Linked DNA regions of Homo sapiens: region 2 is linked to region 1. Evidence: fine-mapped expression QTL. Tissue or cell type: lung. Region 1 holds a variant in brackets; the other region holds the start of a gene. All regions are shown on one strand. Distances are between the middles of the regions.

Evidence for each region. PIP is the estimated chance that this variant, and not a neighbour inherited with it, causes the effect.
Region 2: it holds the start of VPS37A, and the variant in region 1 is fine-mapped to the expression of VPS37A in lung (TOPMed, PIP above 0.99).

Annotation. Positions count from the first base shown.
Region 1 is chr8:17,277,260-17,285,259 of GRCh38, forward strand. VPS37A (VPS37A subunit of ESCRT-I) reads left to right here. Exons shown (of 12, transcript NM_152415.3): 7 at 2,769-2,896; 8 at 2,980-3,038; 9 at 3,116-3,184; 10 at 7,214-7,357. Among named protein-coding and RNA genes, the nearest start is that of VPS37A, 34 kb to the left of the region's middle. The variant A/G (reference allele first, on the strand shown) is at 3,901.
Region 2 is chr8:17,243,416-17,251,542 of GRCh38, forward strand. It overlaps VPS37A (VPS37A subunit of ESCRT-I), which reads left to right and starts at 3,543. Exons shown (of 12, transcript NM_152415.3): 1 at 3,543-3,954. The coding sequence starts at 3,830. It overlaps CNOT7 (CCR4-NOT transcription complex subunit 7), which reads right to left and starts at 3,442. Exons shown (of 7, transcript NM_013354.7): 1 at 3,260-3,442; 2 at 1,621-1,832. The coding sequence starts at 1,737. RefSeq lists an enhancer at 3,191-4,039.

The sequences.
Region 1 (8,000 bases):
AATAAAATGAATATTTACAATATACTGCATACATTAAAGGTTAATATGCATTGTAATGCTCACAATAACCCCATAAGGTAGGAGTTCTCATTTAATAAGATTATCTTTTTTGCTTTAAATTTTTTTTAAATAATTGTTATGAAAACATCAAAAATGCAAAAAAGGTGAAGAAACTAGTATAATGAGCCACCACGTATCCATCATGTGGCAACAACAGCTATAAACCCTTTTGCTCACCATGCTTCATGCCTCTTCTATCCAGCTTTCTTGGAGGGCTGTAGGTATGAGTCACCATTATTCTAAAGCAAATCCCAGATAATACATCCTTTTTAACCCATCAATTCTTCAGTAAATTTTTCTACCAGGTAAGGATTTTCTTTCCTTTTAACCATAACCCCAGTCACCATCATCATCATACCTAACACAATTAATGGTAATTCTTTAATATTACCTTATTTCTCCAGTGTCTTAATAATTAATATTTTTGTGGGCAGTTTGTTTGAATCAGGATTCAAAACGAGTTCCACCTATTGCATTTGGATAGTGGATCTCTTAAGTTCCTTTTAATAATGAACCATTTCTCCCCAACTTTTCTCTTTTATACACACACACACACACACACACACACACACACACACACACAGACATATACATATGTGTATTTACATATGTTCGTATACATGTACACAAATATGGGAATAAATACATGTCCATGTACATACATCCATGCGTGTATATTAGACATAGTGTGTGTTTATTAAATTGGTTATTTGTCCTATAAAATTTTCCATATCCTGTTTTTTCCTTAGTGCCTCCTTGTGGTACCATTGAAGATGTTTCTCTGTTTCCCATAGTTTATGCTGCTGGTGGCTAGAAGTAGACAAGGTTCAATTCTTTTGCCAATACTTATGTCATAATTACTGCATGCTTCTTTTTACATCCTATGAGGCAGCAGTGAGGTCTGGTTGCCCTTTTTTTAGTGACATTAAGATTATATCAGGTTAAAGCACCTGAAATCATTGACCATCATTAATATAGCAAGGGTCATAAATATGATTTAATGATTTTATCATTACCACCAGAATTTATTAACCAGAATTACTCTATGAAGAACTTGACTTAATCAACTACATATTTAGTTATACTGAAGTATACTTCATACAGGACCAAGAAAAATGCTTAAATTTTTCCCCTTATATTATCACCTGTCACAATAATGAGTTGCTGCACTATCTGTCTCCAAAAGTTGCTCTGATGGGTGAGAAACTCAAGTTGCCTTCTGTATCGTTTTTGGCAAAGTGAAGATGCTGTGGGCTCATCATGAACATTTCTTCTCCCAGACCTAGAGTCAGCCATTTCTCTGAAGGGTGCTTGTTCTTTTCCAAAATAACAATACCAGTACTGTTACTAAGATTATTGAATGCAGGTTAAATTTTTGTTTTTGTTTTTTACAGTTCTGTTGTCTTTAGGATATGACATGCCAGAATATACTGTTGTTTTTTTAATCTCTCCAAATAATTTTTCTCTGGGTGTTGATATAACTTAGAATATACAGGTTTATTTATTTTCAAAGCAGTCCATTTTCCCTGAATTTTAAAGACTGCTTTTTCTTTTCTTCTTTATTTTTAAATTATCCAACGTTTTTATATGGCTCCATAGTCAAAACTAAGATACGTTCAGAAAAGTTTTGCTTCCATCCATATCTGCTCCACCTAGTTCTTTCACCCTACAGATACCCATTTTTGTTTTTGGTTTAGCCCTCCATTATTTCTTTTCTTTAAATATTTTATGAATATCTGTACACACATATACATAAACACACATAAACATATCTATAACTCTTACTGTGACAGCCACACATCTGTAAGCTAAATAGTCACAGAGGTTAAAACGGAGTTGTTGTGACTGCTTATGTGCCGTGTCTTACTGGTCCTACAGTAACTGACATTATACACTAGCAGAGACTGTTTATCTTGTAGAGTCTTGGGAGATTTTACTGGCTACATTTTGGCCAACACATCCTTGGAATCATGCACTGACCTGGTCTAAAGCTGACTAGAGGAAAAAGCCAAAATGTTACAGTAACTACTCTGGCCTCTTTTCAGCTCTGTTTCCCTCTTATCAATACATACAATGAAATGACTAGGAAGAAATTCTTCTCATGCTACCTTGTCTGTGAACTTGTACTTGTCTGAATTTACTATAGTACTAGTGTGTTCAACATTATGCTTGGAAGAAATAAATAGCTTAAATTTTACATATCAGTAAGTCTGGTTCCTATCAGGGAAATTTAAGAAATAAGTGATATTCTCAAGCAATTAAGTTAAACAGAATTAAGAACAAGAAAAAAATACTTAACTATATTACTGCTGTCCTATTTTAAGAAACCTAAGCTGAATAAGCTCCTTAGTTTCATACATTGTTCTTTACCTGAGTTAAGTTGACTTTATTTTTAATTTCAGGTCACTGTATAACTGTGAACACTTCCCCACGGTTGTGATTTTTAAAGAAAGTAGATATATCGATATATCCATTGGACCAAAATTTACTTTTACAGATTCTGTCAAGAATATATTACAGACTGCTCTATGTTCCATTGTGGTTGATGTTTTATTTGATTTTAAGGTTAAAACTGGCAGCCTTAGGTGTATATGTAAAAATTATTTAGAACCCTATCAGTTAACTAAAGCTGAAAAATTGTAAATAGTTGTCATGGAGAAAAACTCGATGTCTGATATTTATTGACATTTTTTCTTTTGTGTTTCTAGTGTGTCACAACTCACAGATATGAATGAACAAGAGGAGGTATTACTAGAACAGTTTCTGACTTTGCCTCAACTAAAACAAATTATTACCGACAAAGATGACTTAGTAAAAAGTATTGAGGAACTAGCAAGTATGTTTTCCCTCTCCTGAGCGCACATTTCCTGAAAAAAATCTCATCTTTACCTAGAAGTAAACTAGAGATTTATCTTACAGGAAAAAATCTCCTTTTGGAGCCCAGCTTGGAAGCCAAAAGACAAACTGTTTTAGATAAGGTGAGTTAGTGATAATTTTGAAGAAATTTACATAATTTAAAAATAGAATAAAACAACCTTTTCATTTTCTCTTTTAGTATGAATTACTTACACAGATGAAGTCCACTTTCGAAAAGAAGATGCAAAGGCAGCATGAACTTAGTGAGGTAAGACTGTTTATTTTTTTCCCTTTGCCATAGATTTTTTTTTTAATCTTATGTGCATGAGTCCTGATCTCACTTTCATTATCATCAGAAACCATTTATGAGGTATCTGACCTTATAAGACATGATACCTTTAAACGTGGATGAACAGCTCTCAGTGATGAGGCATCATACATTATTTGTGCTCATATAAGAGCGTATTTGTTTCTAAAACAGAAAATTATGACAGGCCCTGACACATAACTTTTCTGGGTAAGTTATGAAACCATTGTAACACTTGTAGTGAAACCTAGCAATAACAACAAAAACTTTCGACTCACTTGTAAGCTTATCTACAAATACCTTAAATGAAAAGTTCGCAAATTAAAAAGAATAATATATGAAAAATATATAGTATTATCTGCTACAAATAAGTTTTATGCTAGAAATCCAGTTATGTGAAAATCAAAAGAATTTTATAAAATTCAACCTATATTTCTGAAAAAAAAGGAATCTTTGAAAAGGAACCAGAGGACATAATCTTTGTATCATACCAATAACAACCTCATAGTTAATATTCTGTTTCCTGTAAAATTAGGAACTTTGGGTAAAGTCAATGAAATAAAACATAAAATAGACATAAACCAACAACAGCAAAAAAGATGGTAAAGGAGAATATAAATTTATAATGAATTTCAGATAATACGGTCATTTGTCAGAATAAAGAAATAATAGCTAAC[A/G]TTGAGCAATTAATATGTCTTGCACCGCATGAAGCTATTTACGTATATTGGGCCATTATTACACCAAATCCTATGAAATAGGTATTGTTACTTTTTCCCATTTTACATTTTACAGATAGGGAAACTGAGGCACAGGGAGATTAAATAAATTTCTTGAGGTCATACAAGTAGAAACATTAGTTAGGAGTGTAACCTAAGCAGTCCTCCTTCACAGAAAATCTGTGAGACTCAACTGAAGTACTGTTAGATATATACTGGACCTTAGTAAATGTTGAAGAAGCTTTCATAGTACTCAACATCATTCTTTATACAAACTCTTAGTAAACTAAAAATAGAAATTTCTTATTTGAAAAAGAATACTAGAAACCAGCAGTAAACCTCACAATTACTACACATTTCTAGGATCCCATTAATGTTAGGAATAAGAGAGTAATGCCTCATGATCACTGCTGTTTAACGTTGTTTGGGAGGTTTTGAGTACTGCAAGACCAAAAAAAAGTGGTATAACATAAAAAGAAGAAATGAAACAGTTGTTTACCAAAAATAAACAATCAAAAATTCTAGAGAACTGAGAAATTTTTTCCTGTTTGCTCCAGCAATTACTACTGCAAAATGAAGTACAGAAAACAACTCATTTACCATAGGAACAAAATTGTAAAGTACTTAGAAGTAAACCCAATGAAGTAAGTTAGGAAACTTTATTGAATGCCATAAAAGAAGAGCTGAGTTTTGTATTTTCTAAGACTATTTAGAGCAGCATAGAATATTCATTGAATGAAAGATCCATTATTAAAAAGATTTCATTCTCCCCAAAATAACTTAGAAATTGAATACAGTTCTTATCAAAATGCCAAGAATATTTTTTTTATCTTAACAGTTTATTCTAAAGTTCATCTGAAACTTTATTTTTCAGATGGGTAGTCAGGAAGAGCTTGAACAAAAAGAAAAAATGAAAAAAACTCCCTTTCCCAGTATCAGAATACACTGTAAATCCTCATTATTTAAAACAGTATAGTAGTTTTATAGGAAGAGAAAATTATTTCTATGGAACAGACTATGTAGTTCAAAAATAGACTTGTGTATGTGAATAATCAGTTGGAAAAAATTGAGGATTCAATAAATTATAAAATTGGTTATTTAGTATCCATTTAGAAAAAGGTTAGATCATTGTATCATACAATACACAGAAAGTTTATTACAGATAAACTGCTTCAGCGGAAACCATAAAACGTCAACTAGCTTCTAGGATTTTTTCTTTAAGATTATGGTGGGAAAAGCCTTTCTTAGCATAATAAAACAGATATGAGCATAAAGGAAAAACTCGACATATTTACCTCTACAGATTGAAAACTCAGATATATTAAAAAATCATGAAATCAAAATTGAAGTTAAAAAAAGGGTACAGATATTTTTAGCCTATACAACAAATACTAATGCCAGTGGTCTATTGGAAAAGGAAACAACAGGAAACTGACAAAAGGAGAAATATAAATGTCCAATAAAGATTCTGCTTTAACAGTTATTCTGATCCTTAAACATTCATATAAGAATTGCTGGAAGTGACTCTTCAAACACTTAAAAAAAAGACACACACACACACACACACAAAACAATGATTCCTAGGCTTCTTTCTAGATGTTCTCAGTCAAAATTTTCTGGGGATGATGAATCTTCTGCGCTCTTACATATGGAAACCACTTCATTAGACCATTGGTTCCGTGATGGAGGAATCTGTTCTGTTTCATTTCTACTGTACACCTAATATCTGGTTCAGTGGTTGGCACATAATAGGTACTCAATAAATATTTAATGAATAAATAACTGGAAACTTTGGAAAATATGTTCAACTTTACTGTAATTTTTTAAAAAGCCAAATAAAACATCCATGTGAGCCATATTTGTGAAGATAGATAACCAGTTTTGGCAAGGGCAATGAGAAAATGGTGCATTACAGTTCATTTTTATTTATGAGTCACAAAGAGATACTACCCCACATGCATTAGCATGGCCATTATTTTTTTTTTCTTACTCTGTCACCCAGGCTGGAGTGCAGTGCTGCAGTTACAGCTCACTGCAGCCTTGACCTCCCAGGCTCAAGCGATCCTCCCAATTCATCCTCCCAAGTAGCCAAGGCTACAGGTGCATGCCACCACACCTGGCTAATTTTTGTATTTTTTGTAGAGACGGGGTCTCGCTATGTTGCCCAGCCTGGTCATGAACTCCCAGGCTCAAGCCATCTGCTTGCCTCAGGCTCCCACAGTGCTGGGATTACAGGCATGAGCCACCACGTCAAGCAGGATAGCTATTATTAAAAAATCATTTTAGTGCCTAGATTTAGGTCTTTGATCCATTTGGAATCAATTTTGTATTTAAGTAAGGTAAGGGTCCAACTTTTTTCCTTTGCCTGTCGATAATCCAGTTTTTTCCAGCACCATTTGTTGAAAAGATTCCTTTCCCCATTAACTGGACTGGGCTCCCTGGTTGAAAATCATTTGGCCATATGTGTGAGGGTTTATTTCTGGGCTGTCTATTCTGTTCCATTGTTCTTTATGTTTTTATGCCAGTACCACAGTTTTGATTACTGTAACTTTGTTAGTAACTTGACATGAGGAAATATTAATCATCTTTAAGATTGTTTTGGCTATTTGGGGTCTCTTGAGATTCCGTATGAATTTTAGGATAGGTTTTTCTATTTTTGCAAAAAATGCCCTTGAGATTTTGATAGGGATTGCATTGAGTCTATAGGTTGCTTTGATTAGTAATGTCTTCTTAAGAATATTAAATCTTTCAACCCATAAACATGGGATGTCTTCCAGTAATTTATGTCTTCAATTTCTTATAGCAGTGTCTACAGTTTTCTGTTTATCAGTCTTTCACTGCTTTAGTGAAATTTAATCCCATCATTTTTGCCTTATTCTATTGAAATGAGTCGTCAGGTTCAGCCCACACTCAATGGTGGGATTATGCAAGGGCAGGAATACCAGGAGGTGAGGTCATTAGTGGAGCGTCTCCTTAGCATATATCTACCACAGTGATTTAATTCGTAAATCCTTAGGAGAGAACAATGATTTTCCCAGTTTCTCTCATTTAATAGTTTGCAGCCAATAGATTAGTTTCTCTTGAGTTAGGTGTCTACCCCTATCCAAAAGCTAAGGACCTGGGTGGGGCATTATAAGACAGCAGATTTTCTCAAAAAGAGGCTATATAGGGCATATAATAAATTGCCTCTCCATACCACTACCTTACTTCCTTTCCCTGTGAGGAGTTCTTGTGAGTATCATAAATTAAAGTAGTGCCTGATTTTCTTTTTCAGAGCTGTAGTGCAAGTGCCCTTCAGGCAAGATTGAAAGTAGCTGCACATGAAGCTGAGGAAGAATCTGATAATATTGCAGAAGACTTCTTGGAGGGAAAGATGGAAATAGATGATTTTCTCAGTAGCTTCATGGAAAAGAGAACAGTATGTAATACTCGTCAGTTGAGGACAAGTATTGGATAAAGTTTGGTATTTTTATAGAGGAGGAGAAGCACTGGGTGTTAGCTATTTCTCTATTATGATATCATCCCCCTTTTTTTGTACAATATATTTACCTGAAAGGAAGGTTTCTATTCCTTGGGTGTGGACTTGGGCAAAAACCAGGTTCCTGGAACTTAAAACTTTGAAGGTCTGTCATAGGACTCTGGACAGCCACACACCTTAGCTATTCCCAGGGGACCCCAGGGGGGCAACTGCCATTGCTCTAAGATGTCCTTTTGATGTGACTTGAGATATAAATGAGAGTGAGGGCCTGTACGTGTGGCTATTTCCTGTCTGGTATGTCAGAGGAACAGTCCTGGTCAGAAGGGGGCTCTTCTGAGCAGAAATTGCTAATAAACTTTGTGCTGATCTGGAAAAAAAAAAATTTTTTTTTTGACAGCATAGTATCAAATTACTTTAGCATACTCATGAGTGAAAAACATTAGCACATTACTGAACTGGAGTTTTGAGTGCTGTGAGAGGAACCTGAAAAGCCTCTTGAGAATAATAGCAGCATCTTCCTATCACTTTAGACTTGCTTTTTCTGAGTATACAAGCAGGTAAATCAAATAGTTGTTTCAGAAAT
Region 2 (8,127 bases), 34 kb before region 1:
TGTGATAAATTTAACCAAATACTTACTCTATAACCAAGAAAGGGGGGAAAATCATAAATTCCTGTCTCCCAAAGGATACATGAAATGATGCTCACAGTATTCCAATGCTAAAACCAAGTTTCTTGAAGAACTGGTTCAAAAGAGGGGAAAACGCCCTGTACTTTCCAATTGCTTCTCTGACACAAGGTTTTTCTCAACACCAAAACCCTAAGAAAAACATCATTAGCTTCCTAATTTCTCTGGCTTAAACAATATTCTCTCTATAGTCCACAGAAAGCATGCTGTCAAGAATTGCATGCCACCTACTCACTCTTGTAGGATGTTATCACTTCTCTATGTTGCCACTCTTTATCATCTGAGAAATCAATGATCACTATGAATTTCCATTGGTTAAGAAAACAATTTTAGTTCTAATCATGGGTAAGTACACCTTTATCAAATAGTATGTCATCTACAAAGAAACAGTCATATTTTAACCAATCAACTTGCTCCTCCCCAAAGTAATGCATTTGTTTATTTTTATTAAAAATACTGAGACAAAGATACATCGGTTTAGTATTAGAATTCAAACTAGGGCTAGCTAAGAATAAAAACTACCTATCAAGTCACTATGAAATAGTAAAGAAATCAATATTTCTCTAAATTCAGTGCAATTCAACAGCCACTTTATTGAATACTATATGTGTTATGCTAGGTGTTGGGAGAGAAAGGATTAAAACACTTGGTTTATGGAGCTAATAATAATCCAGTGGATGTAGAAAACAGTAGGGTAGCTAACAGATATAGACAGTATAATGGTAAAGAAGAAAAATCATTAACTGGATAGACAATCTAGGCAGACCAAACAGCACGTGCAAAAGCAGAGTTGCTTAGTAACACAGTATATTCACAGAACTCCAGTGTTAATTATGAAAACAAATTGCAGACCAACAACGTTTCACTGGCACATCTGATTTTTTTGTTTGAGAAAGAGCACCCTAGCTTCTGGGAGCTCATGTGGTACTACCAGCTAGGCTTTGGTGTTGCTAGGAGCAGACCTGGCACTCATAGCCACGCCCTAATGTTCTCCTGTTGAACACAATTTCACAAAAGTTCAACCTCAAATAAGGCCACTCTGTAATCATGTCTGAACAAGGACAAAAAAATAAAAATGTCAAACCACAAAATGACCAAGTATCTCCATCCTGGCTAAATGAATGACTGTTCCTTCTCTGCAGCTTTAACCTCATTCTAGTCTCTCATTTAAGACTTAGTAAGATACCCAATCACAGAATTACCCCAGCTTCCCGAACACATCCAATCCACAGTAAAGCTCTGCTTCCCTTACCTTCCCCTAAGACCACCTGACACGAGCCCAAATCCTTCCTAACTCTTATTCAAACGGCCCATGGTTCCCATGAATTCCAGTGCGTTTTCCCTCACTGCAATGAGGGATAAACCCAACCTGTCAAATCACAGGTGTATTCCTGATGGATTTTGGCTGGAGGGCAGTGACAAATTTTACTTTTCATGGTGAAATTAATCCCTAAAAATATCAACCAAAAGGGTTGAATTCAAGACTTTAAAATTTCCTTTTCCTCCTTTATATGAAGCGTTTTAAAGATCTGCTTGTGGGCATACCATAGCAACGTAATTATATTTTCGGATAACTTGACGAATTTTCTTCATCTCTTCATCCAAGTTGCAAGCCCAAACTTCACAAATTCTTTGGCTATGATCTACAGTTGCCGCTGGCATAGTGAGGGCACAAGGGAGTCTAGATGCCAAGCATCAAAATGTTATACTTGATTGAAGATTTGTTTCATAAAATATTTTATCCTTTATTTATGTACCTGTCAAAATAAAAAAACAATATGAAGACCAGATATATCAAATCTGAATCACAGAATAATTGATCCAGCAGGAACCTAAGAAGTTATTTATTCAAAGTTCTTGACTCATAAAAAAAAAAAATCAAAGTTTAGAAAGTAACTTAAGGTCACACAGCTAGTCTATAGGAAAAAAAGGACTACAGTACAGATTTCCTGGTCCTAATTTCAGTTATTTTAAAATAGCTTTTTTACACATACATACTAATCATATTTTATAACTTTCCACTAATTATTTATCTGAGTTCAACTACTCTGCATAAAACTTTATAAAGCCATCCATTTCCAGACAAAAAATGAAAAATTACTTATTTACATGTGACAAGATCAGATGTTACCATGGCAAAGATGGTGTTTATTTTTATTCCTCATTAATAAAACAACCAAAATCCGACTTGATAACAAGATCTACTTTACCGGCGTTTATTCTAACTAGACTAGAGGGGTCAAAAATGTTTGTAAATGCTCTGAGAAAAAAGTAACGGCCATGAAAATTATCTGAATGTTCGCAGTTGCAGAACGGAAAAAGAACACAATAGAACGTCTAAAACTTAGAGCATATTGCATGGTTACCAAAGATAGATGTCACATTTCTGGTCTATAAACAGAGTTCCTGTTGATTCTTGGGCAGGGAAATTTCAAATCCTTCTGCATTTTTCATACAAATTGGAAAAAAAAAAAACAAGAGTAAAAAGAGGGTCTTATGACTGTCTTCTAAACTCTGAAGAGTCACAAATGTAACTTCCAATTCTCCAAGTAGAGAAACTAAAGGAGATCCAGGACACCCCTCCTTTATAACTCTCCCACCCCGATAGGCACACACACACACATAAGCACAAAAACACAAAGACTTGGAAAGACCCTGTAGTCTAACATTGTTTTCCTCCACCTCTCTCTCTACTGCAGTCCCAGAAGCCCCGAAGAGACACCAAAGGCCTTCTCATTACTGGAGAAAGCATCTCCGTACTGCAGTTTCCCAGAGAAACGAGAGGACGGCACCGAGGTATTCAAGCCATAGATAACTCTCTTCCCTGGCAAAGCGCCAGTGCGAAGGTGCTGATAACACTGACTGGAGCTACACTGACTCCCAAGCACTGCCGCGTGAAACAATACGAAGAGGTGAGGATCTAGGCCACCGCCCTCCACTCCCAATTTCCGTCCCACTGCGAAGCCCCAGGTACAAAGCCTTTGCGTCATCACTACGCGCCAACCCCTTGACAAACCCCCAGCCCCAGTTACCCAGCCCCCAACCCGCCGCCAGGCTCCTTCCTCCGCCAGCCGCACTCCAGCTGGCGCCATCGCGCACCCTCTCAGGTTCATCGTCCCCGCCCCCTTTCTACTTCCCTAACCCGCCCCTCCCCCCGTAAGGCTGCAGCGGATGCAAGATCTACTTGTGTCGCTGAGCTCGCGCTCCTCCTCCTCCTCCTCGCCATAGAGACAGCACTCGGCGGCGGTGGCGGTGGCGGTGGCGGTAGCGGCGGCGGCAGCGGGTGCCCCATAGACACCTCTCGCCCAGCGAAGGGAAAGGCGAGCAGGAGCTGCGCCGCACCGTGCTGCGCCGTCGCTTTTCGCACGTCCTGACGGGGGCGCTAGATGATGACGCGACACGCAGAGGGGGCGGAGAGCGCCCCCGGGGGCGGGGCACGCAAGTGACGGCGGCGCGGGTGGTGGAGCGCTGGGCGGCCAGGCTCCCTGGCTGGCCGGTTTGGGCGTCTGGGCCGTGAAGGTGGGACCTCCTGTTCCGGGCCGCAAGTTTCCCTCTCCAGCCGCCCGCCGTTCGTAGCATGTCCCCCAGAACTCGGGGAGCGCAGGCAGGACAGGCTTAGAGAAGACGCGGTCCCCAGCGCTTGGGCCACGGACGTCCCACCCCGCTCCTCTGTCGCTGGAGAACCGCCGGGCCGAGCCACTGGGAGAAGCAGGCCAGAGCCTTCCAGGGCCTCCGGCCCGTGGACCCGAGGAGGATGAGCTGGCTTTTTCCCCTGACCAAGAGCGCCTCCTCCTCCGCGGCTGGGTCCCCCGGTGGCCTCACCAGCCTCCAGCAGCAGAAGCAGCGCCTGATCGAGTCCCTCCGGAACTCACACTCCAGGTGACTGGTCGCTGCCTCTCCACCGGAGGAAAAAGTAGGGTGGGAGGGCGGGCTTGTCCTAACCACCCTCACAGCGCCTCAGTCTGCTCCCCACCAGCTCCTCATGTGGTTTACCTCCCTTGGTTGTGGGTCACACGCTTGCTCTGCCACTCCTGCCCCCTTTTACTGTTTTCCTCCGGACCCTCCCTGCCTCCTGCCGCACCACTGCTCAGCGCTTCTAACTCGGATTTCCTCATCCCTCCTGACACATAGCTGCTGACTGTAATCTCTCAATCTCTCTCATAGTCTATTTCCAGTATCCCTTGCTGCCCAGGCTTCGCCACTGATCTTTCCCTTTGCCCACCTGATTGCCGCGTCAGCAGAATTGTTAAAATACAATTGTGAAGAGTAATCTCCAGGTTTCACAAAGAATGGAAAATAGAACTGTTGCAACATCAAAGGAAAGGGAAGCCAGAGTTTTCATCAGTGAATGCTTCTCGTCTGAGAGTCACTTATCACGTAGTCAGTCTTCTTGAGTCTCTAAGATTTACCCTGTTGGAGCAGTCTCTCCCCATCTCACAGCGACCAGTGCATGTACATTTCTCACTTCTTTCATAGTCTTGTCCCCACGCTCAAGAATTACTTTATGTTCATCTTGATTGTTCTGTTGTCTTCCTGTGAGTTTTTCATTTTATCATGGTCAGTTTAGAAATATTTTTACAATTCATATTATTTCAACTTTTACTGTAAATTGGTTTGCTGCAGCCTTTTACATTGCAAATGTCTATGGTCTCTAATGGTTTTCAAAAATTAGAACTGCTTCTTTATATTTTATGCATTTTGCAAGTATATTTACTTAACAGTTTCACACTATTTTAAATAAAGATGACAACATTGTTAAGTCCCTAACCCCTTTTTTTTTTTTTTTTTTTGCCGGGGGTACGGCTCTCCTGTTGCCCAGGCTGGAGCGCAGTGGCGCGATCTCGGTTCACTGCAACCTCCGTCTCCCGGATTCAAGCAATCATCCTCCCTCAGCTCCCCACACCCCTCCGAGTAGCTGGGATTACAGGTGCGCGCCACCATGCGCGGCTAATATTTTGTATTTTTAGTAGAGACGGGGTTTCACCACATTGGTCAGGCTGGTCTCGAACTCCTGACCTTAGATTATCCACCCGCTTCGGCCTCCCAAAGTGCTGGGATTACAGGAATAAGCCACCTCGCCGGGCTCCTAGCCCTTTTAAAAATATTATTTTCATACAGTTAAAAAATATGTATCCTCAGATAATATCGAATAATTCTTATTTAAAATGGAATAATTTTTAATTAAATAGTCTAGTTAATAGAAAAATTTACTGCAAAATCAGTTTGGCTAAAATAAGGCCTGATGCTGACTGAACTTTAGGTGTTTCTTGGTTCGTTGTCTCAATTGTTCTGTTTGTTCAGAACTTTCAAAAGGTGAAATTTTATGCTGTTTAACAGAAAAGAATGGCAGGCTGTTATTGGTGGCTTTCATTCTGGAAAATTAAGTTCGCAAAGTTCTTACAAGTCACTCTTACTCCAAATCATGTTCTGTACTGACCTTTAAGAGCTACTCTCACAAGGTATGCTTATAAAATAAGGGGACTCGTTTTTAACATGTTTGTTCCCTTAGAAGTTGTTACCTTGGTAGACTATATACCAAACCAGTCCTGCTATTGCAGAAACACTTTTTTAGAACCACACTTTTGGAATTAATTGCTTTTAAACCTTAGTATGTAGTATTATGTTAAATATTTTCAATGCTGACTAATTTTTTTCTTCGAGGTTGGAGTTTAATTTTTTAAATACTACAAAGTCTCTTGCTGCTAAGGCTGGTAAGTAAGGGAAGTAATTGATGTGAAATTTATAATTTTGGCCTCCCAAATAAAGTGAGATTCTATAGCAGCAATTGTTAATGTAAAGAGTTCTGGAATTGGCTTAAGAGGATCAGTAAATACGCGGAGTTGGATACAGAAAGGATTCATTTTATGTATTATTTTTTGAACCAGAAATTATGAACGTATGATTGGACATGATTACATTAGATAATGTAATTTATTTTGTAGTGTTATGAACAAATAACTAAGTATTTTATTGTTTTAAGTTCTTTTATAAAAACACTTGAAGTTTTATTGAGATGTTTCGCATTTACAAATTATACTCGAATAATTCCGGAGACACTTAAGTAGGTCATATGCTTCCAGTTTTCAAAGAATGGCACAATCCTGGAAAATGCCACTCACCTATTCTTGTTAGTCCACCCTTTTAAATAATGACATATATTTGTAAGCTGGGAGGTAAAAAATAATCTGTCTGTATGGTATCTGATGTAAAGATGGAAAAGGTGTGATATTTTTTCTCATCAGTCATAAGGGGCACAGCTGACCCTCCTGTAACAAAAGACAGGTTAACAAGCGAAAAGCATAACAGATTTATTTAATCAAAGTTTTACACTGCATGGGAGCCTTCAGAAATGAAGCCCCAGAGACCGAAGGAAAACTGTCTGTATTTATGATTAGGTTCAATGAAGAATGGACAGCCATGTAGAAATGTGATTGGACAAAAAGAGTATGGTAATGGTAATAGACAGAGGTAGGGGAAACCCACCAAGGCCTGTTTGTTCAGATTTTTCTTGGCTTCTCTGTATAACTTTCTACTCCTCTAGTGGACCGGCCCGGGCTCATATGGAGTGAGGGTCTTCAGGGCGGAAGGGAAAGTGACCTTTCTAGATTTTTTGTAGGGAAGAAGGGTTGTAGTTTGTAATATACCGCCCAGGGGAGGAGGAATTCTGGTTTCTATGACTTCTTCAATGGAGAAAGAGGGGCAGGAGGTGGTCAGAGAGAGCTTTACTTCTGAGGCCCTCCAGACTCCTTTAATTCAAAGTAATCAGCCTACCAAAGTGCAATATTTTGGGGTATTGTTTTCTGAGCCCCAATACTGGCAATATGTTGCCTGATTACCTAAATTAGTGGTACGACTTACACTTAAAAGATTTTTGTGCGAACAGACAGATTGGTTATTCTAAAGGTGTGGTGTGTAAAAGTTGAAAGAATTTCCAGTGTGTTTTTTCCTATGAACAGTACAAAAACTTGTTACATGAGGAATATCAATATCTTGTTACATGCTGTCCATCTCCCTCATGTTTCGTTTTATGTCTCTTCTCCAAATGTAAGCTCAATAGGTGAATATCTTTTTTTGGCCATGAAAGTATCTTTTCTTCTGCTCTACTGAGTAACCTTTCTCTACCCCATTCTGTCATCTCCCTTCCAACTCTTACAATTTTTAACCCCTTATAATTCCGAAAATTCCACTTCAGCAGTCTCTTTTTGTCCCTTTCTCTAATGATTGTGAACTTTTTAGTTGCCTTAAATTCTTATCTCCTCAGCTACCTCAGTCTTCTACAAAAAAAATAGGTGAATTTTATGTAAATTTTTTCATCTGAGTCTCAACAATATGCACGGCAAATGAGATAACTGTCATAGATGACACTCACAGAAAAGTGTTTAACCAAAGTGTTTAAGTCAGCTGTGAAAATGGAAACTAGAAATTATGCCTCCTGGGCTCAAGTAATATGTTCTCTCTTCTAAGTATCACTTACCACAGTATTCAGTTTATCACCAAAACTCCTGACTTTATGGACAGGAGTAGAACTAATTCTGTTTCTTATACTTCCTGAGGAAGCTGACTTTATGGACACTGTTGGTTTTTCCCTCTGCAAGGCCCATACTTTGTGGAGGCTGGAATCTTTCAACCCAGCCTCCACTAGAGGTGAATAAGGATTGTTTATGCCAGTGATGATGGTCTCATCACCCTTCCCCCCAAGTTACTGTGGAAGCAGGACTCTTGGTTAGTGGGAGTTGGAGGGGAAGTCTGCTGGGGAGCTGCTCAAAATGTTTTCTCAGCAATAGTAACAAATGACTGGGAGGAAGAAATGTCTCATGTTTTGGATATTTTTATGTGAGACAACCCTGATCCTCCAATTCCTATCTGTAAAATCAGCAATTGTGATTCCTGTCATGCAGGATTTTTGATAACTAAAAAATATATGTAAGACATTTGGAAGAGTATCTAGCACATAGTAGGCATAGGACGAATTACATTCCTTCTTTCTACTGCATAGAATCAGTGTGCTTGAATCTTTGCCTCTTAGCCTATAAGCTTCTAGCCAGCTTATTG